Linked DNA regions of Homo sapiens. The protein of the gene in region 4 interacts with the protein of the main gene of each other region in a pairwise test. Each region holds a gene or a part of one and is shown on either strand. Other genes may lie near its edges.

Region 1 (7,525 bases), on a different chromosome or scaffold from region 4:
GGATATGACATTAAAGGCACTCAAAACTTTTGATCCCAATCTTTGAGTCGTTAACATTGTTTACACCAGTTGTGCTTCTTTCTGAGTAAATGGAACACTTTATTATTATTTGATTTTAGTTACTCTTATAGCTGCCATTGTGAAGTCTTTGAAATTTTAATTGCTATATAGCATCCTAGTGGATTCTTTATAGTCTTGAAAATATTTAGGATCCTGTCTCAGGCATAAAAATAAACTGCTCAAAACCTTTTGTCAAGTTTATGCTCGAAGCTATTGTATCCTTTGGGTTATTTTCACAGGCACGGTTTTTAGGCGTTTCTTTCTAACACTGTTGAATTTCTGAACCTTAAATGTGTCAACGGCCATCTGTAGTTCTACTCCAAATATCCTTCCCAGTTGGGGTTGTAATACTCATCTCCCACATTCAGGACCTCGGCTAACTCCTCTCAACCCTTTGCCTGGTCTGGGGCATACTAAATTACAAAGAACAGGCTGAATCTTTTAACGTGGTCTTTTTGCTAGAAAAAGTAATATCACAACGACAGTAATGCATCTCATGTTTTAGTAACAATGGTTTACCCTAGGGAGCATTAACGTCACTAACGTCACTGTGTACCTTAGCAGCTACTTTTCCTCGCATTTTATAATTCCCCTTCCCTCCGCCCCCCGGCCCCACCCGTGGGCAGCATCCCAAAGCCGCCTGGCTGACGTTGGTTAGGGTAGAGACGCCCTCCCTAAAGGCTGTCCAAGCCGTCTCTTCCTTTCATTAGCGGTGTAATCCTGTGTTCCCGCCGGAGCCTGGCACGGAAGTGTAATCTTCCCGCGGGGGCCCTTCTGTCGTCTCGCCTACCTGAGAGCTGAGACTAAATGAAATATAAAATATTCACGATAAGAGGAAACAAAGGATGCTGCCTCCAGGACGGCTACTGTGCCTGAGGCTGGGCTCCTTCTCAGTCATCCCAGGGCCTCTCCGTCTGGCCCCACCCTCGCCCCTCCAGGGGATCCACAAGTTGAATCGCAGCTCTCCAGGGTTAATTGCCCTGGCCGGGAGCCAGACTCCTCACCGCCGCCCCGTTCCCCCCTGCTGGGGAGCGCAGAATGACCACCAGGAGGCCAGGAACAAAACGCTTAAATGTTGCATTTATTAAGGAAATGTTAAATAAGAAAAAAACAAAAAGTCAAAACGGTGTCACGGATGTCAAGAGCACTTTTGTGGCGTAAACCGTGCAGTCACGAGCTACGAGTTCTATTCTGGGTCTTTGTCCCAGGGCCAGCAGGAACGCTAGACGCCTCCCAAAAGACCCAGTGGGAAATGCACTAAAAGAAACAACTCACCCCGTTCAAATTCGCAGGCTCCCCCTCCCCCCACCCCTTCTCCCACAATGACAAAACTGTAACTCCTCAGGCAGGCAAACAGGCCACTGGGGCAGAAAAAGACTTATCAAACATTTGTATTCAAGCAAACAAACACAAAACCTCTTAAAACGGCACGTTACAATCAAAGGTATTTATCGCCCCTCCCCTCCAGGGCAGGGGGGGAGCAGGAGAAGAGTGGGAGCGCACCCGGACACGGATTTGTGAGACCCCATGAGTCTGCTGCGTGGCTTTTAACAGGTCACTCTTCCGGTCACAAGGCGATCAGTGCCGCTGGGTCTCTCCCCTGCCCGCCCTCTCCACCTGCCCCCAGAGCTTGGCCCACCTGCGGGTGGAGAAGGGCCTTCGCACCGTCGGTCTCCCCGCATTCCAAGTAAGTAGCAGCTTCCAAAGTTCTGCGCCCTAATCGCCCTCTTCTTGCCACTTTCTGCTGAGTTCAGAGTCTGGGCGCTCTCCTCCGACTGCCAGGCATGAGGACTTTCAGAGGGCGAGGGAGAAACCGGTCGCTTCTTTCCGAAAGGCCGAAGTCGAGAGAAATAATTGACTCCGACAGGTTTGCTTCGCCCAGTCTCTGATAGTGAGGGGCACAGCCGGGCTAGCAAAGTGGGCAGGCGTGGGAGCGGTTGCCGCGGGGGCAGAGGGCGGGTCAGTAGGGCCCCACGACCACCGCCTCCACCTCCTTAGACGGCCTCCGGTCCTTCACGAGGAAGTTGATCATGCCCTCGGACTTGATGAGCAGATTGCAGCCGAGGAAGAAGATGCCGAAGACCACGGTGAGTGAGAGCACGCACATGACCGCGATCTGCACCACGCGCATTATGTACAGGCTACGCTCGTCCGGGCCTCCCTCCGCGAAGCCGTCGTCGGTCACCACGGACGCCTGGGTGCAGCAGCGCACGGCTCGCTCCAGCGCCTCGCTGCTGTTGGCCAGGAACAGGCCCGCCACGTCCGTCTGGTTGCCTAGGGCCGGATTCATCGCAGGAACGGGCGGGCGCCGCGAGCGGCGCGGGTCCGAGGGGTGGGAAGGCGGCGGCGCTGGAGGAACAGGTGCCGGGCTGAGCGCTCACTCGCAGACTAGCGCGTGCGAGGGCTCCTCGCTCTGCTTTCGAAAGTCCCTGGGCCGTGGGAGTTTCCCAGGAGCCTCTCCGACGCGCGCAGCAGCTAGGCTCTTCTAAAGCCGTCCGCTCCAGCCCTGGTGGTGCTCGTTCCCGGCGCTCGCTCGAGGGGGGGCTGTTGGAACTTGGCGGGGCTGGACCAGCCCGGCCGTGGGAGGTGCGGGCCGCGGCGGCTGCAGCGGCGGGGTGGCTGCGCTGAGCAAACAGCGGCCCCTTCCGGCCGCACCGCCGCGCTGCGCGCTGCTCTTGGGAGGTGGAGGAAGCAAAGGGGCGAACCTGGTCTTGCTTTTTATTGCTTGCTTCTTTTGCAAACTCCAAAGGCCAGGCAGAGGTCACTGTACTCTTCTAGCTTGATGGATGATTAAAGAGTTTGTCGGGGGAGGGTGCGGTCAGCTGAAAGTTTCAGAGGAACTGGGACACACGAGCTCTGCGTGTCCTTTGCCTGCTGCCCCCCTGACCTCTGGGCGAATGGAAAGTGGCGATGAATCGCAGGTGCCAGATGGTGCCGGCTGAGGCCACCCGCCCACTGCCTGTGCTTGACTCCGACTCGCCTGCGTTGGATTTCTAGTGGAGTGGAGGTGATCTGAGAATGTTTCTTACAAAGCAATGAATTTGGAAAGACAGAAAGGCATGGAAGAAGGAAGGAAGAAAGGAAGGAAGGAAAGAAAAAAGGAAGGGAGGGAGAAAGAAGAGCTCTACACCCAGCTTCCTTTACAAAAGCGATTGGGAGACAGAGCAAGGCAGGTTTTACCGTGAGGTTTGAGGCCAAGGAAAGAGGGTTAGAGGAAGGAGGAGTTCTTCTGTGGCCCTTGGGTGGAGGTAGTTGCCGGGAGCAGGGTCACCTCTCTGGTAAAGGAGGTGAACAGAGTGACCACTTGCTTGTAATTTTAATTGCAGATAAGTTTTTGGATGTGCTTCCAGCATTTTGTCCGTTGGCAGTAAATCAGTTGTTGAAGGGAATTGCTCATCAACATCCATCACCTAGAACGCTGGCCAAATACTGGGAGCCCTCCCCATTTTCCATAAGCTGATGTATTTCACCCTTAGTCATTTAAACTAAACACAGATGTTTTTATAGGCCTGATTGACGCTTCAGCCATTGTGATTTTGCTCTAGGTTCCAACGAAATTCTATAAACCTGTCAGATTAAGTTTCTTAACTCTGAAAGAATATTGCATGTTCCCGCTCCCCCTTTTCTGTTTTCTTTCCCCTCCCTCCTTTTCCCCATTACTCCCTGCCTTCCTCCCTCTTTCTTTCAGCTGTAACAGCTGGAAACCAGTAACTTGAGCTTCCAATAGAATACATTTACTTTCTATTAAATGTTCTCACCACAAAGAACTGATAAAAATTTGAGATAATGGGTACGCTAATTACTCTGATTTGATCATTCCACATGTATATGTGTATCAAAATATCACTTTGTACCTCATAAATATGTACAGTTGTCAATTAAAAATAAAATAAAACTGAAAAATAGTAGCTGTCTTGCCATTTTCAACTCTACTCTTAATTTCATTCTGTTTGCTTGGTAAATCCTCTTATTTCTGTTTCTTAAAACATCATTTATTCCATCTTCAGAGTGTTCCTTAAATGTTTTTGCACTGCTTCATGACTATCATAAAATAGAATGAAATGCCTTCTGGTTGAGTTTTCAATTTTTTGATATTTATGGTATATCAGCTGCAATAAGTTTGATTTTTTAAAATAGCTATTATTATTTTGAGGGGGATGTTTAACAGCTGAAAATTCAGGCTTGGGCTTCTACCACAATTCACTGGCTTATTGTTCTAGTTTCCCATAATTTAATTAGAATTGAAAAATACCTCACTCTCGGCAATTTCTTCTTTGAAGAAATTTATTAATAATTGATAAGTAAGAATTTACTTAAATCTCATCATACAATCAGTCTATCTTAGTTAATGTGGGTAGTCCTCAAGAATAATAAAACGTAATGTATACATGGAAAAAATTACAACAAATTTAAGGCAATATAAAGTCATCCTGAGATGAATGGTAGAGAAAAGTAATAGAAATTTAGAAAAATAAAAGGTCAGAGAACAGAGGCCCACCTCCAGGGATCAAGTTGTACAGAACTGTGTGTTCAGTAGAAGTTAGGTGTAAGCAAATGGAGAGCCCCTTCTTTATGTGACAAAAACCAAGAGTTAGTTTATAGTACATTTGTAAGATCCAATATGGAAGGATGCTAAAAGTGTTAGTTGAATCATTATCAGAATTTGAGTATATTTATTGCTAGGAACAGTATTGCTGTTTTCGTCAGGTCAGTGTTAAAATGATCAAACCTTGGAGTCAGGAGAGTTTTTATATTTAATCAAATCTTTGGGTGGGATCTTTTCTCTCAGGTTTAAGGACTAATTAGTCACAAAATTGTTGACAAGGTAATAGGTATTTCCCCCATCAGCTAGTTCAGCTCTCTGGTTTTGTTCAAGACAATCTTGGGATTGTTTCCCTTATTTTCCCTCCACTCTGATTTTGTTTAATAAAATTACTTAGAACATATAGATGGAAATTAATTATAAACTTAGTCATACAAAAATTATATTTATTATTCATTCATTAATTGACTTAAGGGGATCTGTGTTGCTAGAGAAATCTTTATGTTTTACAGAATCCCTTTTATTTATCTTTTCCTTTTGAATTTTCAGTGAACAATTTCAGTTTTTCTCCTTTTATTCACCTGTTTCTTAGGAGAATCTCACAAGTGTGAAAAAAGAAATCTTTAAGAAATGTTGACATTGAAAAACTTAATTTCCAGAAAAATGGATGAACATATGGTATGCAGGGAGCATACTGGTAATTCACTTTAAAGCAAAGATTTTTGATACTGAGAAAGACTAACTGCTGTATTTATTTAACTAGTGTCCTCTTCTACTTCATTGGAAATAGGTAGGTGTGATTTTATGAGAGTTAAAGGCCCAGTATTTTATAACATACATGTTACACAAGGACAGAAACACTGCCTACTCTTTCTGGAAAATATATCCTTGGCCTATAATGCATTCTGTAAAGGTATTTTTACAGAATGCTGATATGGATGGTTGCTGTAATTTATAGTTTGAATAGCCTTGAAGTAGGACCAGATACTCAATGCCAAAAGATTTTTGATTTTCTCTTTTTGTACATTATGAAAATATTAAGCAGATATTTTAAAAAAGGAAATATCAAACATTGAAAGGATATTTATTGCTTTGGGGCAAGCTTTTTAAAAAATAAATTACATTATATTACACAATGTAAGCAGGAGTAAGAGTAAGAACTCAAATTCAGAAGCCACTCATAATAGCAGATTCCATAGCCAAAACATAAGAAAAAAGCCAGAAATAAGCAAAATAGTTTATTGAACCACCAAAATAAATGTCGTAAAAGCTAAATACCTAAGCTCATATATTTCACCCTTAGATTATCCCTCCCCAAATTCTTTCTCAGAACCTACGACTTTGATTTTTCACAGTTTTAACTCACTTCTTTGTCTATTTTTCTTAATGACAGGATATCAGTATCAACATGTGTTCTGAAGAGGAGGAAATGGCTAGGGGGTAGGTGCTTTTACAACCACAAAGAGTAACAACAGAAGGAAAAAACAGAATGTTAAACAGCATACACAGACTTTCTAAGAGTATTAAGTAATAGTTTGGAGACATTTAATATAGAGACAAGCAGTCTAAATGGCAAGTAGACTACATAAAGGCATGGCTTTCAATCCTGTTGTCTTTACTTACAACCATGTAATCTTGGGCATGTTTTTTGTTTTTGTTTTTGTTTTTTGAGATGGTGTCTCGCTCTGTTGCCCAGGCTGGACTGCAGTGGCACGATCTGGGCTCATTGCAACCTCCGCCTCCCAGGTTCAAGCGATTCTCCTGCCTCAGCCTCCTGAGGAGCTGGGCTTACAGACATGCACCACCACACCTGACTAATTTTTTATATTTTTGGTAGAGACAGGCTTTTGCCATGTTGGCCAGGCTTGTCTCAAAACCCTAACCTCAGGTGATCAGCCTGCCTTGGCCTCCCAAAGTGCTAGGATTACAGGCGTAGCCAACGCACCCAGCCTTTTTTTTTTTTTTTAAATCCTCTATGTACCTCATTTACTTATCTGTTAAATGGGGATAACACTTTACAGAATTTTGAAAGGATTGATCTATTCTATGGAAACAACTGGAAAACAGTACCTAGCACATAGCAAGATCTCAAATACAGATATATTGCAATAGTTCCTGAGGTGGACATCAATATGCATAAGTCATTAAATGAAAAAAGCCATTAAATTTTATTCAATAGTTTTCTTCTAAGAAGTCTGGAAAGTGAGTGAAACATTTTAGAAAGATTTCCATATAAAATGGTTGACCTTGGTGAGTAAAAAATGCTAAGGATGTGGAGAAATTGGAACCCTCGTGCATTGCTGGTGGGCATGTAAAATGGTACAGCCATTGTGAAAAACATTATGGTGGTTCCTCAAAAAATTAAACATAAAATTACCACATAATCCAGCAATTCCACTTCTAGGTATATACCCCTCAACATTGAAATCATGTACTTAAACAGGGATATGTATATTACTGTTCATAACAGCATTGTTCACAATGGCCAAAAGGTGGAAGCAACCCAAACGTCCATCAACAAATGAAGTGATAAACAAACTGTGGTATTTACATAAATGGAATATTATTCCGCCTTAAAAAGGAATAAAATTCTTTTTTTTTTTTTTTTTTTTTTTTGATACGGAGTTTTACTCTGTTGCCCAGGCTGGAGTGCAATGGCGCAATCTCAGCTCACCGCAACCTCTGCCTCCAGGGTTCAAGCAATTCTCCTGCCTCTGCTTCCTGAGTAGCTGGGATTACAGGTATGAGGCACCATGCCCAGCTAATTTTGTATTTTTAGTAGAGACGGGGTTTATCCATGTTGGTCAGGCTGGTCCTGAACTCCCGACCTCAGGTGATCCACCTACCTTGGCCTCCCAAAGAGCTGGGATTATAGGTGTGAGCCACCACGCCCGGCCCTGCCCTGAAATTCTTATAGATGTT
Region 2 (8,345 bases), on a different chromosome or scaffold from region 4:
AATCTGTAGTTTTTTTAGTACTTCTGTGGTCTCAGTTTTTTAGTTCCATTTGAAATTGATTTTGCTTTAAGATGTGAAATTAGAGTCCAAATTTGGTGGGGTGGTGGGTGTTTGTTTGTTTTTGAGAAGGAATCTTGCTCTGTCACCCAGGCTAGAGTGCAGTGGCGCCATCTCGGCTCACTGCAACCTGCGTATCCCGGGTTCAAGCGATTCTCCTGCCTCAGCCTCTTGAGTAACCGGGATTACAGGCGCCCACCACCGTGCCCGGCTAATTTTTATATTTTTAGTATAAGAGACAGGGTTTCACCATCTTGGCCAGGTTGGTCTCAAACTCCTGACCTCGTGATCTACCCGCCTTGGCCTCCCAAGGGGTTGTGTTTTTTAACAGAAGGTTATCTAGTTGTCCCAACATGTTTCCCCAACAGGGGAATAATCCCTTTTTCCTAATACTTGAAGTATTATCTTTAGTGTTCATTAATTCTTATAGATATTTGAGTTCATACTATTTTTTCACCTTGGAATTTTCATTCTGCATGGGTTGCATAAACTCAGGCCCCACTCCCATAAGTGGCACGGGCCTGGGCTTTTAATTTTTCTGTCTTTTCTTTACCCCAGCCTACCCATGCACCCTGGAGTTAAGGCCATATGCTCAGTTCACAATGTTGCTGAGCGCTTTTGACAGTAGCTCAAATTTCAGAAGCAAGATTGCACTTTCAGTCACTTATAGAATCATACTATTCAAGAGATTATTTAGTTTGGTCTCAACTTCAGGCAGGTAAAATAATTTTCCTAATTTATATTTGAGGGATCTAAGGACTATGGAAATCGAGACTTGTTGATTGTGAGTGGATCCTCTAGAACCCAAGTATCTGTCTTCTTGAGAGGTATTATTTCAGTTTTACCATACTGCATTCTCTCTAAAAGTCTTGGGACTTACTGGACCTAAGCATAAAAAAATTTATTAGTTCAGTTAATCACTTTTACATATTGCCTCATTTGTTGATAGGCTGATTATAATCTTATTTGAAATAAATTACCCAATACTAAGTGTTATTAGTTACTCAATTTATAATCACAAAAGATTATTGTCAAAACAGGCCTGAAAACTGCACTGTTGATAAACTTTAATTAATTAAAGTTCATCTCTGAGAGATATGGTTTTTAAACTGTGAGAATAATTAAAATATCCCTTTAGAAACACTAAGGTAGCTATATAATCATCCTAATAATCACAAAATTATCTGTTACTACATATTTACTTCCTCCTGGAATTTTCTGTTTATTAAATTAATATTTAAAACATTTTACAATGAGCATATGTTGTTGCTGTTTCAAGAATATGTCACCTCATTCTAACTGATTGTATTAAAGTAAGCAGTTTTAGGATACGGTAACAAATAGGTTTATTGAACTTTAAAATATCTTGACCACAAGTTGGATTGACACTGAAAACTAAATGAAATCTGAATTCTGACTAGTATAGTACTTCATGTTGGGTTTGTTTTGTTTGTTTGTTTGTTTGTTTGTTTGTTTGTTTTGAGATGGAGTCTCGCTCTGTCGCCTAGGCTGGTGTGCAGTGGCGAGATCTCAGCTCACTGCAAGCTCTGCCTCCCAGGTTCACGCCATTCTCCTGCCTCAGCCTCCCAAGTAGCTGGGACTACAGGTGCCCACTACCATGCCCGACTAATTTTTTGTATTTTTTAGTAGATACTGGGTTTCACCACGTTGGCCAGGATGGTCACGATCTCCTGACCTCGTGATCCGCCTGCCTCTTGTTGGTATATTTAACAATAGCTTTGAAATAAAATTTATCTTTAAAATGATGTCCTTGAATATTTGTTATGTAAGTATATTTCAGAGTATTTGCTTTGACTGAATAATGCTGTTCATTTTTTGTAGCACGAATTTGCTTAAAATTGGGAGGCTGTTTTTGGATCAGCATTATATTTTAATATTTGATAAAGCAACAGAATTTAATTCTTCTAGTTACTACTGAACTGTTAGTGTCTAAATGAGCCTTAATAATAAAAAATAACCAGATCATGTAAACTAGCCTTTTTAAAAATAAATTAGGCTGGGCACAGTGGCTCATGCCTGTAATCCCAGCACTGTGGGAGGTTGAGGTAGGCGGATCACCTGAGGTCAGGAGTTCAAGACCAGCCTGTCCACCATATATGGTGAAACCCCCTCTCTACCAAAAATATAAAAATTAGCTGGGCGTGGTGCCACACCCAATAATCCCAGCTACTTGGGAGGCTGAGTGAGGCAGGAGAATCACTTAAACCTAGGAGGCAGAGGTTGCAGTGAGTTGAGATCACACCACAGAGTGTGACTCTGTCTCAAAAAAAAATACTAATACAAATAAATAAATTATACCATGCAACAGACTTAAACCATTTCAAATTGGCTTTATTTGGGGAGCTCCCTATTGTTTTAGTATTATGAATAGCCAAGTATACTTACCAAATATTAGAATTGGTAAATATTTAGGTTTTTTATGTAAGGGGATAACGGAATGGGAAGGTATTGCTGACTTTTCAGATAAGCTCCTGGTTGTATTATGAATGCAGGGAAATCTCCTTTTATTAGACATCAAATCCTTCCTCAGAATAACCCATCCAGTTCCAACTTTAGTTCCTAATGTTATATTCTTTAATGGCCTTACAGAAGGCTGGGCATGGTGGCTTAGGCCTGTAATTCTAACACTTTGGGAGGCAAAGGCAGGAGGATTGCTTGAGGCCAGGAGTTCAAGATCAGCTGGGCAACATAGGGAGACCTTGTCTCTACAAAAAATAAAAGAAATTATGCAGGCCTGGTGGGCCATGCTTCTAGTCCCAGCTATTTGGGAGGTTAGGGCAGGAGGATTACTTGAGCCCAGGAAGTAGAGGCCACAGTGAAATATGATTGAGCCGCTGTACTCCAGCCTGGGTGACAGAGTAAGACCCTGTCTCAAAAAACAACAAAAAAAATTTTTTTAATGGTCTTACAGGAAAGAGCATAGAAAATTATTACTAAAAAGACCTTTGCAGAAGTTAAATGCTTCCTGAGGGAAATTCTAAACATATGGAGAAGACAGCTTAATATAGTTTAGGGAGTGGGGGAATATGTTAATCACTGAATTATTCTTTTCTATTCAAGAGTCAACAGAACATCATTTGTCTGGAATTTGGCTTGGATTATTAACTGTTGACTCAAGTTCACTCTTACCAAGTCAATCATTCCCTACCCCCAGTACCCCAGAAAGAGCATATTTTATGAAATTTTTTATTATTATTATTCATTCAGTGTTGAAGCTTTCTTAGGGAAGTTGGTAGAGAAATTAATAGAGAATGCACTGGTATATATTAATATACTCAAAGATGGAGGGCTTTCTGATTGCTGTTTTTATAATGATTTTATCTTCTCTCCTTTGTATCATTTAAATGTGTTTTATGGCTTATACTCTGAAGTGCCTGAAGTAGATTAATGTTTGCAGGCCATGGAGATAAATACTATAATAGAATGCTTAGAAAAGCTATTAAGTAGAGCTTTTTTGTTAATTCTCTTCCATTTTGATTTAATAAGTATTCTAAAATTTTCATTCCCTTGAAATTTTGTAAGTAGTAAAATGCTCCAGTTTTCATGGTCGTTACTCCATCTTTGGGCTTGTGAGTCTTCTATGTGTTTTCTTGAGGTACACTGGAGGATTTAGGAAAGTGGAAATAGTACTCTCAGTTCTGTCAGTAATTTTAGGCAAATCACACTGAATGCCTCCGCTCCTGTTTTTTATCTGCCAAATGGGGAAGGCAGTCTGTCCCTTCCACTTTGGGAAACTCTGAGAGAGAAAAGTGAGGTTGCTGGAAAATTCTTTTAAAAATTGAACCTATAATTTTCCATTTGTAGATTGTTATGGCCTTTATTAGTTTTATTTTTCCTTTTGTATGTTTCACTTTTTGCTTTTTTAAGTTTATAAGCATTGGTCTAGTCAGCATTAAGGGTAAATATAATGTTTATAGATTTTTTTTATCATTGTTTCTTAGAAATTTTTATTTTTAAACACACTAGTTCTCTGTCTCTGTCTCTCTCCTTGTCCTCCTGAAAACACCCATTGCCACAAAGTGTGTAGAATTTTGCACGCACATGTGCATGTACACACACAGACATAACTGGTTAATACCTTTTTTTTTTTTTTTTTTTTTTCTTTGGAGAAGGAGTCTTGCTTTCTCGGCCAGGCCGTAGTGCAGTGGCATGATCTCAACTCACTGCAACCTCCGTCTCCTGGATTCAAGCAATTCTCCTGCCTCAGACTCCTGAGTAGCTGGGATTACAGGCGTGCGCCACCACAGCCGGCTAATTTTTGTAGTTTTAGTAGAGATGAGGTTTCACCATGTTGGCCAGGCTGGTCTCAAACTGCTGACCTCAACACTGCTGCCACAGAGTTGGGATTACAGGCATGAGCCACCGCACCTGGCCTGGTTAATACCCTTTTGAATGTCAGTTGAGATGATAGAAAAAGTTTGAAGGTTACGAATATTGGCCAGTGGTAAATTGTGTTCCATATTCTTATATAGAAGACACATTTGAAAGTATAAAATGGTAGCCTATGTTAATAAGACTGATTAAATAAATTACAGGTACACATCCATTCAGTGGGATAATATATAACCATTCAATGATAAATAATTGTTGATAGTCATGTGATACGATGTAGCAATATGGAAAATGCAATAAGAATAAGAAAAGCAGAATACAAATGTACTTTACTGGAACTGTTAGCTTTACTTTCATGTTACTGTATCAATACCTATGAATGCTACTCTTAAAATTATTGCTAATGCTACTTCTAGTTCCATGCAGTAAACTTTTCAGAGAATGAATTTCACATCTGGTTAACTTTATAGTACAGTGCTGTTAGCAACTCAAATTAATACTCATAAATGCTTAGATATCTATTTAAGTGAAACCTCGATTTCTACTCTCAGAAGGTACAGAGACTTTTTGACACATAACTTTCAGTTTCCTAAATACTTTTATATATGAATATAATCATTTCGCTCATTTAAAAATCAAGGAATTTCTAGTTTTTTCTGCTTGTTTACTTATCAGAACATACTTTGTTCTTTTATTTATAAGCCCTGTTTTTCACCACTCTGTTGTTGTTGTTCATAATAGTGTCTTTGCCTACCATAAGTGAATCTGTTTACAGAATCTTGAGTTTCTTTTTATTCGGAACTACAGCTAAGTCATTTGGAAGAAAATTATTACGTTCCTACTTTATGCCAGGCACAGTGCTAGGCATTGAGGATACAAATCCTCAATTGATGAACAAATTGCTGTTCTCAAGGACAAACCTTGGGAATGGTTTTTGTCAACACATCAGTCATGCCATTTCTCCTCAGAGAGAATGGTACCCAATTCCTTGGATAAAATGCTAATTATTGCTTAATGTGTCAGTCCAGAAGAATTATTCCTTATAGCTACTTCCTCTGTTTTCCAAAAGTCATGACAAGTAAGAGCTATTATTTTCCTTAATGACTTTTCCTAGTTTATATAGATCATTGTATATATATTATGGTAGTCAGATGATTTATTTTGAATATGGGTCTTTTTTTATTAAACCACTCAGCAAAGATTTATTAAATGCGTGTTGAGCACTGAACTAGTCACTGGGACCACAAAGATGATACAGTCTCTTTTCTCATAGAATTACAACCTTCATAAGGATAGCAGAAAGAAAAATGTTACAGATTCAAGTTCAGCTGAGTCTTTACATAATACATGATGTTCTGTTGATTATTTTTATTTTTTTGATGCCACTATTAACAGCAACCAGTAAACATTATTTCCCCTCAAGCAGACTGGCTTCTAAACCTAACCACTTAAGTTTCTTCTTCTCCCTCATTACCTCACAGTCTTCATTTTGAATATTAAGTTTGGGGATATCTGAAGTAATTGAAATTGAGGGTTTTAAGATCTAAGTGAAAAGCTTTACTTGGGTCAAAAGGCAGATTTCCAACAAATTTCTTTTCTTATTCCATCTAGTATCTGTACATGTTTTGAAATTAAGGGTATATACAAATGTGAATTATGAGGGGTTTTTTTCTTTGTTGTGTTTTTTTTTTTTTTTTTTTACTTTTTCCTTTGAGACATTCTAAAATATTGTTAGGTGATCTAAATAATTTATTTTCTTTTTTCCAGCGGGTCCATATGGAATATTTGCTGGTAGGGATGCCTCCAGAGGACTGGCCACATTTTGCCTAGATAAAGATGCACTTAGAGATGAATATGATGATCTCTCAGATTTGAATGCAGTACAAATGGAGAGTGTTCGAGAATGGGAAATGCAGTTTAAAGGTATTTTTATTTTGTTGGATTCTTTGGAAAATTAAATATTTGTTCAAAGAAAATATATACTATTTTACATGCTTTAAGAGCCTAAGGATGTCATCCGTTTTCATTGCCATCATTATTTGATAATATTTTTAAAGATAGCTAAAGCTGGGTGAAGTGGCACATGCCTGTGGTCCTAGCTGCTGATGGGAATCCCTTGAGCTCAGGAGTTCAAGGACTAACCTGGGCAACATAGTGAGACTTGTCCAAAAAAAGAAATTGCAAAAAATAGCTAAATAAAAATATGATTGTTACATGTGATAATTATTTTGAAAATCAATATTTAAAAAAATGACTTGTTACAAATTCTAAGCCTCAAAAATTGTGATACTTACAGTCAGCTTCTTCATTAAGGTTTAGTTTTTTAAAAATACAGGCTTATATTTAAAACTGAGTTGATTACTGATTTCAATACTATAATTTATTCCAAAATGATTTTACAGATCTTAACACTCGAAATGTAGATAAAAAATATCTTTCCCCTTTCTTATGCCCTCATAACATCAGTTTTTACCACTTGTGTGATGCTGTCCCAGCTGTTTATCTGACCCCTGGGTCCCTTGGAACAGCTGTTCTGGTTTAGCTGGGTACTGAGATGGGTCCTGGACTTACTCATTTTTAAAAAAGATCTCCAAGTGATTCTGATGCAGTATCCAACTAAGAATCACTGGTACAGAACACCCTCTTGCAAAGAATTCCCAAGCCTTATAAGTTCCCTAATCCTGTTTTCTTTTGTTCAGGCTTTACATGTGTATAAAGACCAGCCATGGTGAAGCAATTTTAGAATATTTAGATAATATTCTAATAATCATATTTTATATGATTCTAAAACAGACAAATGCCTTTTCTCTGTATAATGGAATAGTGAAACAAATTTGATCACCACTGATTTTCTTTTGATGTATCTTTCAGAAAAATATGATTATGTAGGCAGACTCCTAAAACCAGGAGAAGAACCATCAGAATATACAGATGAAGAAGATACCAAGGATCACAATAAACAGGATTGAACTTTGTAAACAACCAAAGTCAGGGGCCTTCAGAACTGCAATTCTTACTCCCTTTCACAGACTGTCCGGAGTCTTTGGGTTTGATTCACCTGCTGCGAAAAACATTCAACAAATTGTGTACAAGATAAATTAATCTCACTATGAAGATTTGAATAACTAGACATTATTTATGCTGCCAAACTCATTTGTTGCAGTTGTTTGTAATGTCTAGTGGGGCTTCATCATCCTGAAAAGAAGGAGACAGGGATTTTTTTAAAGAGCAAGAAAGTCACAATATTACTTCTTTCCTTCCTTTTTTCCTTCTTTCCTTTCTTCTTTCTCTTTCTTTCTTTTTAAAATATATTGAAGACAACCAGATATGTATTTGCTACTCAAGTGTACAGATCTCCTCAAGAAACATCAAGGGACTCCTGTGTCACATACTGTGTTTTTATTTTAACATGGGTGAGGGAGGCGACCTGATCAGGGGAGGTGGGGGTACACATCAATTTGAGTTGTTCAGGCTACTGAAACATTAAAATGTGAATTCCCAAACTTTTCTTTTTGGCTTTGTCAGGGAAAAGAAAAATATCTTTATAAAGAAATCTTTGGAAATTAGGAGAAGGAATTTCAGGTGGGTTTAAGTCAGAGCTAGTTCCCCAACAGAAAGATCATTTGAAACCAGTTTTTATCCCTTCTCTTTCCTTCCCTTTCCCTAAATCAAATCAATATTAATTGTGCCTTATTTCACTTAACATAGACTTGAATTATTTTTAGGGAAAGCCCCTATAATGAATTCAGAAATCACTACAAGCAGCATTAAGACTGAAGTTGGAATATTCTGTTGACCATAAAACCTTGATATCATTCTGTGTATATAGAATGTAAAAGGAATATTACAGTGTTAACTGCCATATATGTAATATACACAAACTCAATTAGCATTGTAATGGCCAAATGCATTCCCCCATGCTTTTCTGTTTTCAA
Region 3 (8,263 bases), on a different chromosome or scaffold from region 4:
ATTCATTAAAGGAGAGATTTGAGGTGATATTTATGTGTGTTTGCTAAAAATCCATACTAAGAAAAATATACAATAATTTCACATGATTAATAGCTTTCTTTGGGTACCACCTAAATTAATCTTACACACTGCTAGTGGGAAATGCTGACCTACAGAATAAATTTAAACTCCCTGGCATGGCTCTCAAGACCAGCTATATCTGGGTCTTAACCTCCTGATCAGCCATAGCTTACATACGTCCTCCACAGTGCATGGAACATTGTGATTACTCAATAATATTTGTGAACAATTGAATGGATTTGTAAACCCTTCTGTTTTAACTACATTGATATCTTTACCACCTGTCAAAACACTCTTTTTTTCCCTGCAATTTTCACCTTTTCACATGTTCTTCTGACCCTTGGAAAGCCCTTTCACCTCACCTCCACCTATCCAGCTCTGACATCTCCTATAAAAGCCTCCCTTACTTCTCATCTGAAAGTTCCCTCCTCTCCCCTCTGAAATCATTTGATCACTTTATATCTCCTTTGATCCTTGTCATTTACGTCCTTATATTTCAGCCATCTTTTTATGAATGGATTTTCCCAACTAGATTGCCATCCTCCTGGTTTGAATGGCTCAAAACTCCCTTCTATGTCTCTATCCTACTATGATGGCTTAAACAGAGGTAGTGCTTTAAAAATATTGATTAGTTGATGATTCTAGGCACCAGACTAAATTGATTTATGGGCGTGACATATGACCTTAATCCATCATCAAGCTCTTGGGTTGGGCTTGGGAGTTATTCTTCCACTCTAAGAAGGGAAGAGACTTGACTCCCCATGGACAGGGAACATGGAAGAGTAGGCTGGTTGCTCTACCCAGGAGAAAAGTATAAAATAAGAGCTCACTGTAGTGGGAGGAAGGCATTACAAAGTATACAAGGAAGCTTTTGGTTTTAATGGATATATTCATGATCTTGATTGTGGTGATGGTTTCAATGAATGTTACATATGTCAACACCTTTCAAATTATACACTTTAAATATGTGCGATTATACTTTTATACATCAATATTTTTATATGTCATATTTTTATAAGTCAAATATACCTCAATAAAGCTGTTTTGAAAAAGTAAGTTCACTGTGAAGTTCTGTGCATGTGCAAATGCAGTAAGCAATAGATGGAAGAGTTACATTTCAGGGCAAGAGAACGAATGTTTGTTGACAAATTTCTCATGCCAGGTGCTTTGCAAGCATGATCTTCTCTGGTTCTCACAATGACCCCATAATGCAGGTATTGATTCTCTACTCGTTTTGCACCAGAATAAATCAAGCCTTGATGCAGATAACTGATTTCCCCAAATGACAAGGTGATAAAGGAGCACGCTTTTTTCACCTTGGAGGTGGCACTTTTTTTTCCCAAGATGGGGTAGGTTTGGAGTTTTTTTGGTCTTTCTCTCCTAGGGAGCTGCACTAAGCAGATCCAAAGAGTCAGAAGAGAGGCAATAGTAGCCAACAGGGCATGTCCTGTGCGATTTCTGTCCTCAGGCTGCACATTTCCTGCAGACTGGCAGAGGTGCTGGCGGCTGGGTTGTTTACTAAGAGATGTGTTCCTGCCCTCAATAATCTCCAGTAATAATAAGCACAGTAAACTCCACATCCTGACCTGGATCATCCAGATACTCTATGAGAGAAGTGAGAACGGAAAACGTTTCTAGTTTTCCAGGGGATGCAAACAACATTTTCTCACCCACACCCTGAGCCAGACACTTAGGGCTCAGTGCTGAGAAGTATTAGGGAGGGTTCTTACAGGAGGAAGTTGTTCATTTTCAATTCAGACTCACCTCCAAAAGCAATCTGTAATCTCAACTTGCCATTTCCATGAGAAAGATATTATGAATTATAAATTTTGGCAGCCAACTCAATTTTAAAGGGAGATAATATCTTAGGGACTAAGGAATACCTACTCAACATTTATTCCAGTACCTAGAATATTAAGTAACTCATTAGTAGTCACTAAAGTTTGATCAGCACTTCATAGTAAATGGAGTGCTTTCTTATCTGTAACCTCCTTTGAGTCACTCAACTATGTTATGTAGGTATTATTACTCCCACTTTATAGATGAGGAAATTGAGGCTCTGAGGCATCAGCTAATTATTCACAACCACTAAGCCAACTAGCTCTCAAAATCCCAAATCCTGAGCTATTTCTTCACTATTACCTTTCTTCTTTCAAGAACATCTGGCCAATATTAACGGGAAGCTTCTTTTATACCTGGTTAGTGACTATAAAAGCATAACTGGCAAAAATTAAATTAGTTCCTTTGGACCTTCAGCTTCTACTATAGATATCTAGATATCAGGGGTTTTTTTTCCTACTAGGACCATATTAACCAAAAAACAAACAAACAAACAAACAAACAAAAACATTAACTTGCTAGCTCATTAGATTTAGTTACCAAATTTAAAGACCTAAGAGAAGAAAACACACTTTTCCCACCAATAATTCAAAGCTTGTACGTTGCTCTTTATAAAGACGGAAATGATGAGCTGGATGATTAATGGGCCATCTACACTTCCTGGAAACTGTAAACAGTGCTTTAAGGATGTACATGACACATCAAACAACACAGCCTTAGGAAGAATCTTTAAAATATATTTCCATCCTGTTTGAACATTTCTTAAATAAGGTCACAAAATAAAAACTTATCAAAAGTTTGAACAAAACACAAATCACAATTTGATGTTTTTTGACTGTTTTTACCCTTTTTATTCTAAGTAGAAGTTGAGAAATTTTTTAGTTAATTAAAAGCCCATATGGCAATCAAGGCCTATTTGGAAAATGACAAAGGTACGGCAGTAGACCAACATTAATTCTTTGTATTACTTGGTGTTCAAATTAACATTTTTTAAAAGGACCCAATTATGATGTCAAATTGATAGATGTTTTGTGGCTTTGGATTAAAAGATGTTTGTAAGTATTTTTCGAGGTTCCTGAAATGACTATATAATTGGTATAGAACAAAATGTGCCTTGTTTTTGTGTATCCATATGTATTTAACATCCTTATATAGATGTATTTACCCTTACCTATATCATTCCCATGCATTGTAAATTTACTTATTGTGTCTTGAAAAAAATCCTAGCAAAATTTCATCAGCAAAAACTTACCTTCATTCTTGAAACTCCTAATGATGTTGGCAGAGGGCATGGAGGTCCGATCTGTTGCAAATTTGTTGTAGAGTTCCAACATGTACTCTGGTGGGTCCACCTTGGCTGAATCCTGCGTGGGGATGTCAGAGAGGTTTAGTGTCTTAAGAAACTCATCCTTCATGCTCTGGAGCAGTGTGTTAAAGTCGACACCGTCTTGCTCTGAGAAAACATCACCAAAGAGGGACATATCTTCTTCCAGAGGAGACTGCTCTAGGTTCATGATGGGGCTGCCAGAAACCAAGTAAGCTGCCAGGCAGAAAAGAGCGCACAGTGTCAGGACCAGAGAGCCCATGACTCCGCTCGAGCTCCTAGGCCAAGCCAGGAAGGTTTAGCTTCCCTGGGCTCTAAGTGGCAGTTTTATCTTGTGGAACGTAAATGTCTCCTGTCACTGGAGACAAGTTTGGAAACTCTTCCTCTCTCTCTCCCTCCCCCTACCACTCTTCCTCTCCCCCTAAAAGTCAGGTTGCAGTAATTGGATAACAAAATCCCCTATAGGGGCCTAGCCTTTCTTATCTCCCTAGTGTAAACTTGTGCACCAGAATTTGTTTCTATCTTGCAATCCCTATTTCTTTTAATGAGCATTTTGTAAACATTTCCACATTCTGACACTGGTTGAGAGATAGGACAATTTTCTCTTTGCAAAGGCTCTGCTTCTCTTCCCTTCAATTCACTTCCTTTCAGCAGGAATGCCTAAATTCTGTTTTTATGGGGCTTAGTTTCACACATGCATATAATAGGTATAAGAATCAACATAATGCACATCAATGGTGATACATGTTAATTTGAGAGGTAGGGCTCAGATAAACACTTGTGAAGACAGACCAAATATCCAAACTTTCCAAGTTTAAGTTAATAGCTATAAATGAATTATATAAATTTTTAGAAGTGTACCTTTTTAGAAACAGGAAAGTATAAACTTCATGATTGACAGGCTTTTTCCTACCTATTTGATCTGGCTAAAATAGCATTTGAAAAATAGGGCAAGTGCTTAGTTATACTGGCAACTAGAATTTATTAGATGCTTCCTACAAACAGGCATTGTACTGAGTGCTTTACACCTATCATCAAGTGTGCTCCTGTAATAACCGTATCATTATCTCCATCACATATATGGGTCAGTGAAGTGCCATAGCTTGCCAGAGGCCACAAAGTTGCAAAGTGATGGGGCCACAATTTCAACCAAGGCAGCCTGATTCTTATGAAGAATAAAACAGTCACACTTTTAAACCACTCTTCTACCAGACTAGGGCATGGGCAATAATGCTGAGAGGCCAACACGTCCCCAGATCAGCCTGGAGGCAGGAGGCAGGCAGAAATTTGTAGCTGGATGTGGACCTCAGGTCCTCCATCTGTGCAATGAGTTGTTAATATAACCAACATCTCTGCGAAATTCATCCTTCTGACTCAATCAAAATTGTCATCAAGAGGCTCCAGCAAAAGCTTGGTGTGATGGTTAATACTTACTGTCAACTTGATTGGATTGCAGGATGCAAAGTATTGATCCCGGGTGTGTCTGTGAGGGTGTTGCCAAAGGAGATTAACATTTGAATCAGTGGGCTGGGAAAGGTAGACCCACCCTTAATCTAGCTAGGCACCATCTAATCAGCCGCCAGCACGGTTAGAATATAAAGCAGGCAGAAAAACGTGAAAAGACGAGACTGGCCTAGACTTTCAGCCTATCTTTCTCCCATGCTGGATGCTTCCTGTCCTTGAATATGGGACTCCAAGTTCTTCAGTCGGGGAACTTGGACTGGCTCTCCTCGATCCTTAGCTTGCAGACAGCCTATTGTGGGACCTTGTGATCGTGTGAGTTAATACTTAATAAACTCAGAAATATATCTCCATCCCCTATTAGTTCTGTCCCTCTAGAGAACCCTGACTAATACACTCGGCAAACAACATTACTAGGCACACAAAAAACGCCAAATGCCTTGGTCCTGAAAATAAAAATGGTAGAATCGATTGTGTGTCCAGATTAGGAAAGACAAATCAGGTTCATCACATTTTCCATTCTAACTAGTGACAGTAGCAGCCGGGGTGCAGCCAGAGAGGCCCTGCGGACAAGCCCAGGGGATGTTTTTCCCACTGAGGTGGTAGTTCTGGTATCTTTCTGACGTGCACACCATTACTCACGCGTCCTGGTGCTGTGTTCCAAGGGCTGTGTCAAGATATTTGGTTCACTGGAATCCTTTCTCAGTTTCTAGGTTAAATTTTCCTATATTCATGCTCATCGTTTAGCTACAATGTCTCCACTTAACTTTTTCTCCAGGCTCACTTAGGTTTCTAGTCATCTTTTGATTCTTTTTCCTCCTAAAATGTACAATGTTACAGCCATTTTTTAAATTACCATAGAAAGAACCATATTTTGTTTAGTAGTTGTTAATTGTCTATTTGTTTAATAGTTTTGATTTTGATTCAATGTTCAATTTTGATTCAAACTTTCTATTCCCATAGTAAAACGACAATTGTAGACTGGAGACAGATTATACCCTGAACAGTCCCACAAGTGAGTGAGTGACTCCAAGGGCCAGAAGCCGTCCTTCGGGTGGTTCGTTTTCACATGAGGTTTCTGACAGCATACCAGCAATGCCCTGTATCATGTCCTGCATCCAAACAGGCACCCATTTATCTTCACACACACACAGATGTCAACGCACACTCCAAAACTCTGAATGCAGGCATGTGCGTGTAACTGCCACAGGACAGCAGTGTAAGTGGTGGTACTTACAACCCCTGAGCACACTGGTTTCAAAGGTCACGGGGAGAGACATGCATCCCACATTGCGGAGTTCTAGTTCTTTACATTCTTGAGCATAAAAACATTAACTGAGACTTCACTGGCTTCCCTGTACTTGGTGTTAGAAAAACTACAGGGTCAAATATTTGGATCCATGTTGATATTTGGGGATGATTAAAAGATACAGTAGGAAAATGACTATAGCCATATTTCAGACATTTCAAGATATCAGCGTGTCTTGAGACGCATGCTTGGTGAAGGTTCTTAAACCCATACCTGTGCTGGGTGGACAAGGAAGGAGGTTGGCTTCATGCTTGGAGGAAGGGGACATAAGCTCTCTCCCTCTTCCAGGCCTGGGACACCTCACATCTTAGCTGCAGAGTCTCTTTATCCCCATATTTTTCTCTAGAAGCTTTTTCTGATGACTCTCATCTGACCCTAAAAGGTCCAAATGTCTTTACATTCCTACCCCTATTTTGATCTTTCTGGATGCAATTCATTCTATTCTTTTGCACTTATCTCATTATTTTGTATCCTTCTCATTTGGAATGTGTTACGGTTCATTCAGAGTGGATGGGCAGTTTCGTGAGCCAAAGATGTAAAAGGTATGTTTAGATGTTTTAAAAGAACCCATACATGTGGAAAGCAAAATATTAATTACACATTATGCTTTTCCACCCCACTGCAAAATGCTCCAGAACCTCTGATTTGCAAAGTTCTGGGCCAGTTTTTAAAACTAGTTCCATAACTGTACAAACTTAAAGAATCTAACATTGAACTTCATTGGATTCTCAAAGGGATCTGGGATCCAGACATGGTCAGAGCCACTGGACAGCATCCTGATGAATTCTGCTGTTTCCTGTGAGTAGTGCACAGCCCCTGAATAAATGCAACCAATAAAATTATCCTGAATGAAAAGAGGCCAATGAAGTCAGGAGGTCTTTGAACATGACTCTAGGTTCTTGGAACCCTCTCTACCTTGGATCCCACTTCAGAAGCATTACATTACTCCTGCTACCTTCTCAGGACCAGGTGTGATAATAAAAAAAAAATTTAACAAGCTATACGATGGGTTTTGCCCATTTAACTTATATATGAATTGAATCATGTTATATGTTTTCTTCCAAGACTTACTTTTTTGCACTCAACAGGATTTTTCCAATGCACACTTGTTGATGCCTGTAGCTGAGTTCATTGATTTTCACTGAATTGTTGTCAGCTTTATAAATACATAAAAATTTCTTTGTACGTTATACTGTTGATAGAGACTTTGTTTCTTTTTTTCTCATTATTTACAGTACTACAGTGAATAATCTTACTGTTATTTTCTATTTAAGAGATTCTCGGCCAGGTGCGGTGGGTCACGCCTGTAATCTCAGCACTTTGGGAGACCGAGGTGGACGGATCACGAGGTCAGGAGCTCGAGACCAGCCTGACCAACATGGTGAAACCCCGTCTCTACTAAAATACAAAAATTAGCCAGCCATGGTGGCATGTACCTGTAATCCCAGCTACTCAGGAGGCTGAGACAGGAGAATCACTTGAACCCAGGAGGCAGAGGTTGCAGTAAGCCAAGATCACGCCACTGCACTCCAGCCTGTGCTGGCTAATAACCACCATGTTGGACAGTGCAAGTCTAGACTTTATTTAGTAAGAGTAAATATCAGAATAGAATTGCTGGTTGGTAGTCAGAAAAGACTCCAACAATTTTACATAATGCCAAATTGTTTTCGAAAATGGTTTTCCCAATCCTGTGTCTCCCAGCAAGAGTTCGTGTTGTTCCACATCCTTGCCAATGCTTATGCTGATTGACTTTGGGGACTGTAGTTGAGTCTTGGAGGCTCTCTCTTCTGCTCTTCTCTGCCACTCATTCCTGAGAGATGCAACAGAGCATGTAGATTATCACCTTGAGAAAAGGTATAGTTTGGGCTGGGAAACACTGTTTTAGTATTGTGTTGGCTTCCACACCCTATATTAAATGACAGCCCATGTAAAGCATGGTGTCCAAGAGCAAAAAAATTTATTGAAGGACAGGAAAGGAGACTTGCATGAATGTAACAATATTCCAAGTCAATGGATAAGAAGACAATATAATAAAGATGTTAAAAAATCCCCAAATCAATATATAAATTCAATAAAATGTCAATCACAATCCTAACAGGACTTTTCATAGAACTTGAAAAGATGATTCTAAAAGCTATATGAAGGAGCAAAGGATTAAGATTAAGTAAGGGTACTCTTAGAGAAGAATTAAATAGGAGAATTTTCTTACCAATATTAAAATCTATTAAAAATCAGTAATGATCAAGATAGTGTGGCGTTGGTGTAGGAAT
Region 4 (8,345 bases):
AAGGCCAGCGGAAGGAACAGGAAGAAGGAACAGCAAGTACTTATTGCACTCTTCTTTGACTGTAATATAATTGAACAGATAGATGAATAGATTTTAAAGGTGTTTTGGAGCTTTAAACCTATATGTATGTTGTTTATGTATATTTTTTATGATGCTTCATGAATTAAGGCCATTTAATGAAAGGAGCACCATGTTTCTGATATCTGACTATTGCTACTCTTTTCTTTACTCTGGGTGATGCTTGTGGACAAAAACCGATTTTACTCATTGTTCCTCTAATGTCCAGCACATAGTACCTGCTTAATAAATACTTGTTGGATCGAGACCTTGAGACCTTGATCAGGCCATCTTGTTCATCTCTTTGTGATATTATTGGCCATCCCTTCCGTTCTATATCTCATCTGTTCCCCTTCTCCTAAGTTTGAAAATGAGAGTCTTTTTCTTCTCTGCTTCTCCTTCTCGTACTGCCCTTCCCACTTTGAGCAGTGACCAGGCCCTTGAAAATACCCCTCACACTTGTCCTCTTGTCTCCATTTCCACTGCCCAAGTTCAGGTCCCTGTCACCTTACCTAGACTTGGAGACATATGAAACAGATATAGAGGTGCCTTGAACAACCTAGGGGCAGTGGGAGTGGGCGGTGGAGAAAAATGCAAGCACAACATATGGTTAAGAGTGAAACAGCCAGTTACTGAGGTGGAACAGCTTTCCTGTTGGTCTCTCCTCCATATCAAGTTATGCTCCCCTAATTAAATCTCCATTCTTTCATGAGGTTTATATTTCTAAAATTCAGTTCACATTTTGTTAAAGGACCTTGCTTTTAAAAACCTCTGAGGGTTTCCATTGCACACAAATACAGTCTAAATTCCTTAGCCATACACTTAGGACCCTTCACAATCTGCCTTCTCATCTCTTTCCAATTTTTTCTCTTGATATTTTCTTTCTCACAGTTCACCCTATTCCCTCCCTATCACTTTTCTGCTTCAATATCTGTGTGGATTGGATTCCAGTCCAGAATGCCTACTGAAATCCTGTGTACTTGTGATGGCCTATCCCTGATGCCACTTTTCCACCTCTTGGGAGAAGTGTTCACTGATCACCTCACTGGCATTTTCATAAGTATTTGTTTATCCTTCACATTTTGGACTGTTGTTACTCCAGGTGATGGAAGGTGGTGAATAGGGGCTTAGGCTCTGAGTCAAATATAAATATCAGGCCTCAGCTTACTCACCCAGGAATCTTGGGCAAGGTGTTTGGCATCTCTAAGCCTCAGTTTTTTCTTTTGCTAAATGGGAATGATGATGCTGGTGGTAGTGTTGGTGGTACCCACTTTACTGAGTGATGGTAAAGATTTAATGAAGATAATGAATGTGAAGTATTTGGTATAGTGTTAGCATTCCATATGTATTGAATTAAACATATCTACCAGAGGAGGGAGAGAAAGTTGATCAGTAAAGTTCCCTTTACCTCTGAAATTCTGTGACTATGTAATCTTTTAAAAATACTTTTCTGAAAATATATCTTGATGGAAACTACCTGGATCTTTTTAGTCTCTGGGAGAATATACATCTATGAAAGGTGGTGAGGAGGTAGGAGAAGTATGTGCACAGAAGTACTTTGAAGAATGTGTGACAGACTTCGAAAAAGACATCTTGTATGCAAAGGCACACAGAGTAATATAATGGACTGTGGAGACTCAGAAGCCAGAGGTTGGAAGGGAGGATGCCAGATAAAAAGCTACAGATTGGGTACAATGTGTACTACTCAGATGACAAGTGCACTAAAGTCTCAGATTTCATCACTTTCAATTCATTTATATAACCACCAAAAATCACTGATACCCCAAAATCTATTGAAATAAAAAAATTTTAAGTAAAATTAAAAGATTAACTTCAATAACCTAAAAAAAGACACTGACCCTAGATTTAAAATAAGATTTTAAATTTAAAAATATTGTTGTACTTATTTCTGAAAATTGATCACATATTTGTTTTCTAGTGATAACCTTACTAATAACAGAGGAGTTCCCCTAACCATGTTACCTTCCCAATCACTGAATTCCTCTACTATTAGTAAGTAACTCTGTTTCAAGTGAGGTTACAATGTGTCTTTGGCAATAACTAGCTGGGTACCCTTGAGCAACTCATTTCACATTTTTATGCCTCATTTTCTCATCTGTCCAATGCTAATAATAGTATCAGTGCTGCGTACCTCAGAGTTGTGAAGATACAATGAGAGCAGAGCTGAGAAAGTCCTTGAACAAGTTTAAAAAAACTATTCAAGATGATAGTCATCTGGCATTAAGCATGCTGCTAATCTTCAGGGTCAGGTGATGGTTTTAGATTAGTGAGTCTCAGAGCAGACTTCACATTAGACTCATCTAGGGTGTTTTAAAAGCTGTCAGTGCCAAGACTTCAACTCCAGAGATTCAGATTTAGTTGGCCTGGGATGGAGCCCAAATATGGGAGCTTAGAAAATATCAGGGGTGATTTTGATATGCATTGGTTTAGATTTAAAGCAAGGAAAACAAAACAAACATCAGAAATTAAATGAGGACCTCCATATGTTGCTTGACAAAGTCTTAGTCTTAGTAGTGTGAAATTATGAGCTTGACTGACTTTTCCCCCTGATTTTACTAAACCAACCATTTGTTGACATCATGGAGCCACAGCCTCAGGTTACAGTTTATAACCTGAATTTTCCCAGGCATAGACGCCTGTCCAGTGATACAGCCAGAGCCACATGAAGATTTAATGTGTAGATCTCAGTTTCCATCTCTTAGGAATGGCGAAGGTTGGAAAAGAAAGCGACAATGGAAAGGAAAAAGAAAGGGATAGGCTATGGACCAAGGTATAGGAGAAAGAGGCTCTGAGCAGGAGACAGACAGGTCAGAGCACAGAGAAAACACTGTGTTTAATTTATTGAACCGGTTTTGTTTAGGTTGCAAACTGGTGGCTAGAGAGCCAAATTAAGCTTGTGGGCATATTTTATGTGACTTACGCTTTCTTTTAAAATTATTTGAAATTAGTTGCCAACTCTTAAATATCAGAATTTCACTTAGAATTTTGATTTCTGGCATTTATTGAAAAACATAAAAATAAAAAGACCAGGCTCATTCCTGCCACTAGTTGGAGGGAAATAGATGGGACATGTGTTCTCTAGTTCCTTATGCCCAGTCTGCTTTGCCCATTTATCTTACCTACCTGAGCACTAGCTTCTTTTGTTTTAACTTTTATTCTCAATCTGGGGATCTTAACATTGGCTGCACATAAGAATGCTCTCCTCTGGAGAGCGTTTAAAATAACCATGCTTGGATCCTGTCCTATACCAATTAAGTCAGAGACTGTTGTGTGTGTAGTGTCCCCTTATCACTTTTATTTTTTTAAAGCTCCCCAGTTTGTTCCAATGTCCTGTTAGAACTGAGGCCTATTGGCCTACAAAGGCAACTATTCAAGAGATTTGTCTACAAGTCCACCTTCTTATCTTTGGAAGTGATTCATTAAGAAATAGTGTATAGAATCATTAATTCAGAGAACTGGGAGAGGTCTTTGAGAGAGCAGCCATTAATCCAATCTTCTTATTTTAAGGTGAGGAGACAGAGACCCAGAGAGGAGAAAGGAATTGTTCTGAGACTGTAACCATCATCTGGTATTGAATTATATAGTGTCTTTTATTACATTTTCTCTTTTCAAATAAAAGTCTATTTTTAAGATTTCTTTTTATAAATGATCCTCTTTATATGCAGCACTTTGTGATGCTTTAAAGTTCTTATTATTTCTGTTTTTCCTTGAGTATTTTGTTAGGAGTCATAACTTAGCTAGGGCTTAAAAACAAACACACAAAACTGTATCCATCTTTTTTAGTACAATAGCAATCCTTGATCAGAAATATCTTTAGAACAAAAAACATATATGCAAATAAAGAGATTTTTCTCAAGGGCTGAAATATTCCAGGCTGTTTTCAACTGCATGAGTTTTTAGTAATTATTTAAATCCATTAATTTTCAATTGACAAGAAATATTTTTAATTTTGTTGGTATTCACACTACTCATATACACTCACTGTTCTAATTAATTAAGATTCAATTCTTTTGGTGTTTTTTTTTTAAATGTAATATACAGTCTGTCCTCCTATATCCAGTTATAGGTTGACTTCATTAACTTTAGAGTTTATTTTTTCTGTCTTGAATAAATTGGAATTGTTTCAAAATTTCTGATATAGATAGGTTAGTTACCAACATCATAAGCTGGTCATGTTGATAACAGACATTTAAAAGATCATATGGGAACTTGAAGACAAGAGGAATTATGGAACGATTAAGAGCAGGTTTTGGGATCCTGTTAAGATAGGATGCACTGGGCAATTTGTCCAAGGAAGTTAGCGGTTCATCTCCATGCCCCACAAAGAGGGGGTCCATACTCATCCCCTGTGAGCTTCTGTAACACAGGGCTTCTTGCCCTTCACACTACTGGCATTTGGGGCCAGACAGCTCTTTGTTGTGTGTGGCTGTCCTGTGCATTGTATGATGTTTACCAGCATCCCTGGTCTTTCTCAACTAGATGCCTGCAGCACCCCCTCACTTACTGCAACCCAAAATGTCTCCAGGCATTGCCAAATACCTCCTGGGGGCAGGGAGAGGGACACAATTGTCCCCAGTTGAGAACCACTTCTTTAATACAACTCCTTCTCTGGACTTTTAGAAATCATGCCAAGAATTCTTAAACATTCCAAGCATAGTGGCTGGGACAGTAATGATAAATACCTTCCGTTTATATAGTTCTTTACAATACTAAATGCATTTTTACATAAATCCCACACGCCCAGATCAAATGTAAAGGAGATCAGGTGGTAAACTTAATGAAAACTATGAGGTAGGGCTATCCACATTGCTTCATGTTCCCATTTTTGTTTTGTTTTCCATGGGAAGATGGTGTTTGTGATGCTCACTGAATATATTGTCTGCAGGCAGGTGATCATAGCTTTCTTTTTAAATTTAGTCCTCATTTTTATTGTTAACATGTGTTTACTGTCACCATATACTAGACCTTTGAGATGTATGGTCCTTGTCCCCAAGGAATTGAAATTGTAAATAAAAAGATTACTGAAATATGAGCCCCCTTGCTATAAGCCAGTGAGTAATCTACACGAAACTGCTGTAAGAATTCATCACAGGTAAACAGTCAAGCAGGTTCTCAACTGGAACAATTATGTCCCTCTCCCTGCCCCCAGGAGGTATTTGGCAATGCCTGCGTTGGTCATTGGAGAAAGGCATCACAGAAGAGTTGGCTTGAATTTTTTAAAAAAGCAAGCAAGCTGGGCTTTGAAAGAAAGGTCATACTTAAGTTAGCATAGGCTTCATGGGAAGGTGGAGAGGGTGTGTCCAGGATCAGGGGGATGGTGTGAACAAAGCAGAAAACTGCATAAGAGTAGACCCATTGCAGGAATGGAAAATTAGAAGGAATATAGTGGGAGCATAAATTAAAGAGAAAGCTGTCTGAGGTTCTAGAGATTAGACCTCATCCTGTAGAGGGAACAGTTATGATTGGCAAGGCAGAAAGAGGAATGTGCAAGACTGTCTTTTCAGGAAGAATCTGCCTCTATAGGTGGGAGAGGGCAAGAAGCAGGAGGTAGCGTGGCGGAGAGTGACTGTGGCAAAGTTCAGGCTGTGAAACTGTAAGGAATAAGGGAAAGGAAAAGGATTTTGTGAAGGAATGTTGGCAGGACTTGGCAACTGATTAGATATGAGGTTGTATGAAAGCCATACTCAAGTTTCAAGTCTGAGTGACAAGGAGAAGGTGCATTATATCTTTAACAGAAATAGAATGCTGGCATGTGAGGTCAGGTGATGCGTTCTGCTTCAGGCATGTGGAATCTGAGGTAATGATAAACATCCTAATGGAGCAGTCCAGAAGGCAGCAGGAGTCTGAAAAGAATTTATGGAAATGTTTCTGAGAAGGAAAGAACCTGAGAGATAACCTCTCTTTCATGCCCTCTCATTTTACAGATGAAGAAACATGTGACATGTTAAGTGGCATGATCATGATCAAGTTGTATTTATGAGGGAGATCCTATTTCATAACGCAAAGGAATTCTAGTTTTATAAAGTGAAAAAGACTGGGAAGAAAGATCTGAAAGATGCCTTTGTAGAATGAAACTTGACACTACAGCCCTGAAGCCCTAAAAAGGAAAGAATTTGGAATATGTGGAGCAAGAAGAGTCGAGGCCCAAAGAGCTACTTCTACACAGAAAGTTGGGAGGAGGAGGGATCTGGCAGAGGAGACCAAGAAGGTCTTGGGAGGATGCAGTGTGGAGTTATTTGGGAGAAGTCAGAAAACAGGAACAATGGTCACAATAATTTACAAAACCCGGGCCAGACGCTGTTCTAAGTGCTGCACATGGACCAAGTCATGGAATCTTTATGACTGTATCAGATGGGTATTGCTTTAAGTCCATTTTACAGATGAGGAAACTAAGGCAAAGAGAAGTTAACCTTCTTTCCTGGGGCTACACAGCTTCTAAGTGGTGGAGCCAGAATTTCCTAATCAGGCATGATTTCAGGGGAGTGGTGGCAGGAGCAAGTAGTTTAGAGACTGCTAGCAGTAAAGAGAGGGGTGTGATGATAGTTCAAGGTTCTAGACAGAGTTATGTTCCAGATAAAGAGCTCTGAGGATGATGGATGTCAAGAAGGGAAGGCAGAGAGAGGAAGTAGAGAAACAAGGTCCTAGCAGAAGAGCCAGGACCTTAAGCACAGGTTAAACCATTAGTCTTGGGCAAGAAGAGAGTAAAACCACTTATTTTTCTGAGACCACTTACTAGCTTCCCAGGTTTTTCACTACCAAAGGCCATTTTTATTATTCCCCACCTTCCAAAAGCCCCAGATTTTCAAAGATTTTGATGATCGGCTTTAATTTTTTATTTTAATTAAAGTATAAATTATATGCAATGCAGTGTCCAGATATTAAGTATACTATTTAATGAGTTTTGAGTGTTGACTTTAATATATTAATTCATTTCCCATTTTTATTACTCAAAGGTATATAAAATTGCCAATCAAATTTAGGATTATCACATCAAGTTAATGAAGCCTTGCTAACAGTATGGATACCTCACCATTTAGTTAACCTGTTTAGCCTGTTTGAGGCCTTTTGAAATATAGATCCATGTTAGTTCTTAGATCCTTATCACTATCATCTATGAACCCTGAGGATCCAAGAACCCCAAGTGGGTAAACAGACACAGTCAGTTATGGGACTAGCTGGCCCGGAATTATAGAACCATTGTTGACCTTAGGCTTAACACTTTCTCCGCTTTAAAAATTATATGTATTTAAGGTGTGCAACGTGATGTTTTGGTATACATATGCGTGGTAAAATGGTTACTAGAGTCAAGAAAATTAATATATCCATCATCTCACGTGGTCACTTCTTTTTTGTGGCAAGAGCACCTAGAATCCACTCTTTTAGCAAAAATCCCATATATATAATACAATATTACAGGTTGAGCATCCCTAATCCAAAAATCCAAAACCCTGGCTGGGCACAGTGGCTCACGCCTGTAATCCCAGCACTTTGGGAGGTTGAGTTAGGTGGATCATCTAAGGTTAGGAGTTCAAGACCAGCCTGGCCAACATAGTGAAACCCCATCTCCACTGAAAATATAAAAATTAGCTGGGCATGGTGGCATGTGCCTGTAATTCCAGGTACTCGGGAGGCCGAAGCAGGAGATTCTCTTGAATCTGGGAGGCGGAGGTTGCAGTGAGCAGAGATCTCATCACTACACTCCAGCCTGGGTGACAGAGTGAGATTTCATCTCAATAAATAAATAAATAAACACATTTTAAAAAGTCCAAAACCCACAAAAGTCCAAAACTTAAAACTCTGAGCACTGACACGATGCCCAAGTAGAACATTTTACATCTAACCTCCTGTGATAGGTCACAGTCAAAATGCAGTGAAAACTTTGTCTTATGCACAAAATTATTTAAAATATTATGTAAAATTGCCTTTAGGGTATGTTTGTAAGGTGTATATGAAACAAATGAATTTCAAGTTTGCACTTGGGTCTCGTCCCCAGGATATCTCATAATATGTATGCAAATATTCCAAAATCCAAAAAATCAAAAATCTGAACTACTTCTGTCAGAGGCATGTGAACCAGAGCAACTCCATCTTAAATAGGAGCTGAGTAAAATGAGGCTGAGAGCCACTGAGCTGCGTTTCCAGATGGTTAAAGCATTCTAAGTCACAGAATGAGATAAGAGGTTAGCACAAAGTACAGGTTGTAAAGACCTTAATGATAAAACAGGTTGCAGTAAAGAAGATGGCTAAAACCCACCAAAACCAAGATG

What was found.
Region 1: the proteins of SLC38A1 (region 4) and RPRM interact in binary tests that used the Homo sapiens proteins (3 or more experiments, as listed by UniProt).
Region 2: the proteins of SLC38A1 (region 4) and PGRMC2 interact in binary tests that used the Homo sapiens proteins (3 or more experiments, as listed by UniProt).
Region 3: the proteins of SLC38A1 (region 4) and BMP10 interact in binary tests that used the Homo sapiens proteins (3 or more experiments, as listed by UniProt).

Annotation. Positions count from the first base shown.
Region 1 is NC_000002.12:153,476,216-153,483,740, forward strand, and holds RPRM (protein reprimo), read right to left. Parts: upstream 2,548-7,525; 5' UTR 2,351-2,547; coding exon 2,021-2,350; 3' UTR 1,123-2,020; downstream 1-1,122. UniProt on the Homo sapiens protein: May be involved in the regulation of p53-dependent G2 arrest of the cell cycle. Seems to induce cell cycle arrest by inhibiting CDK1 activity and nuclear translocation of the CDC2 cyclin B1 complex.
Region 2 is NC_000004.12:128,270,350-128,278,694, reverse strand, and holds part of PGRMC2 (membrane-associated progesterone receptor component 2), read left to right. Parts: intron 1-6,177; coding exon 6,178-6,333; intron 6,334-7,281; coding exon 7,282-7,379; 3' UTR 7,380-8,345. UniProt on the Homo sapiens protein: Required for the maintenance of uterine histoarchitecture and normal female reproductive lifespan. May serve as a universal non-classical progesterone receptor in the uterus.
Region 3 is NC_000002.12:68,867,874-68,876,136, forward strand, and holds the start of BMP10 (bone morphogenetic protein 10 preproprotein), read right to left. Parts: upstream 3,525-8,263; 5' UTR 3,486-3,524; coding exon 3,152-3,485; intron 1-3,151. UniProt on the Homo sapiens protein: Required for maintaining the proliferative activity of embryonic cardiomyocytes by preventing premature activation of the negative cell cycle regulator CDKN1C/p57KIP and maintaining the required expression levels of cardiogenic factors such as MEF2C and NKX2-5.
Region 4 is NC_000012.12:46,258,137-46,266,481, reverse strand, and holds part of SLC38A1 (sodium-coupled neutral amino acid symporter 1), read left to right. Parts: exon of another isoform or gene 1-36; intron 37-8,345. UniProt on the Homo sapiens protein: Symporter that cotransports short-chain neutral amino acids and sodium ions from the extraccellular to the intracellular side of the cell membrane. The transport is elctrogenic, pH dependent and driven by the Na(+) electrochemical gradient.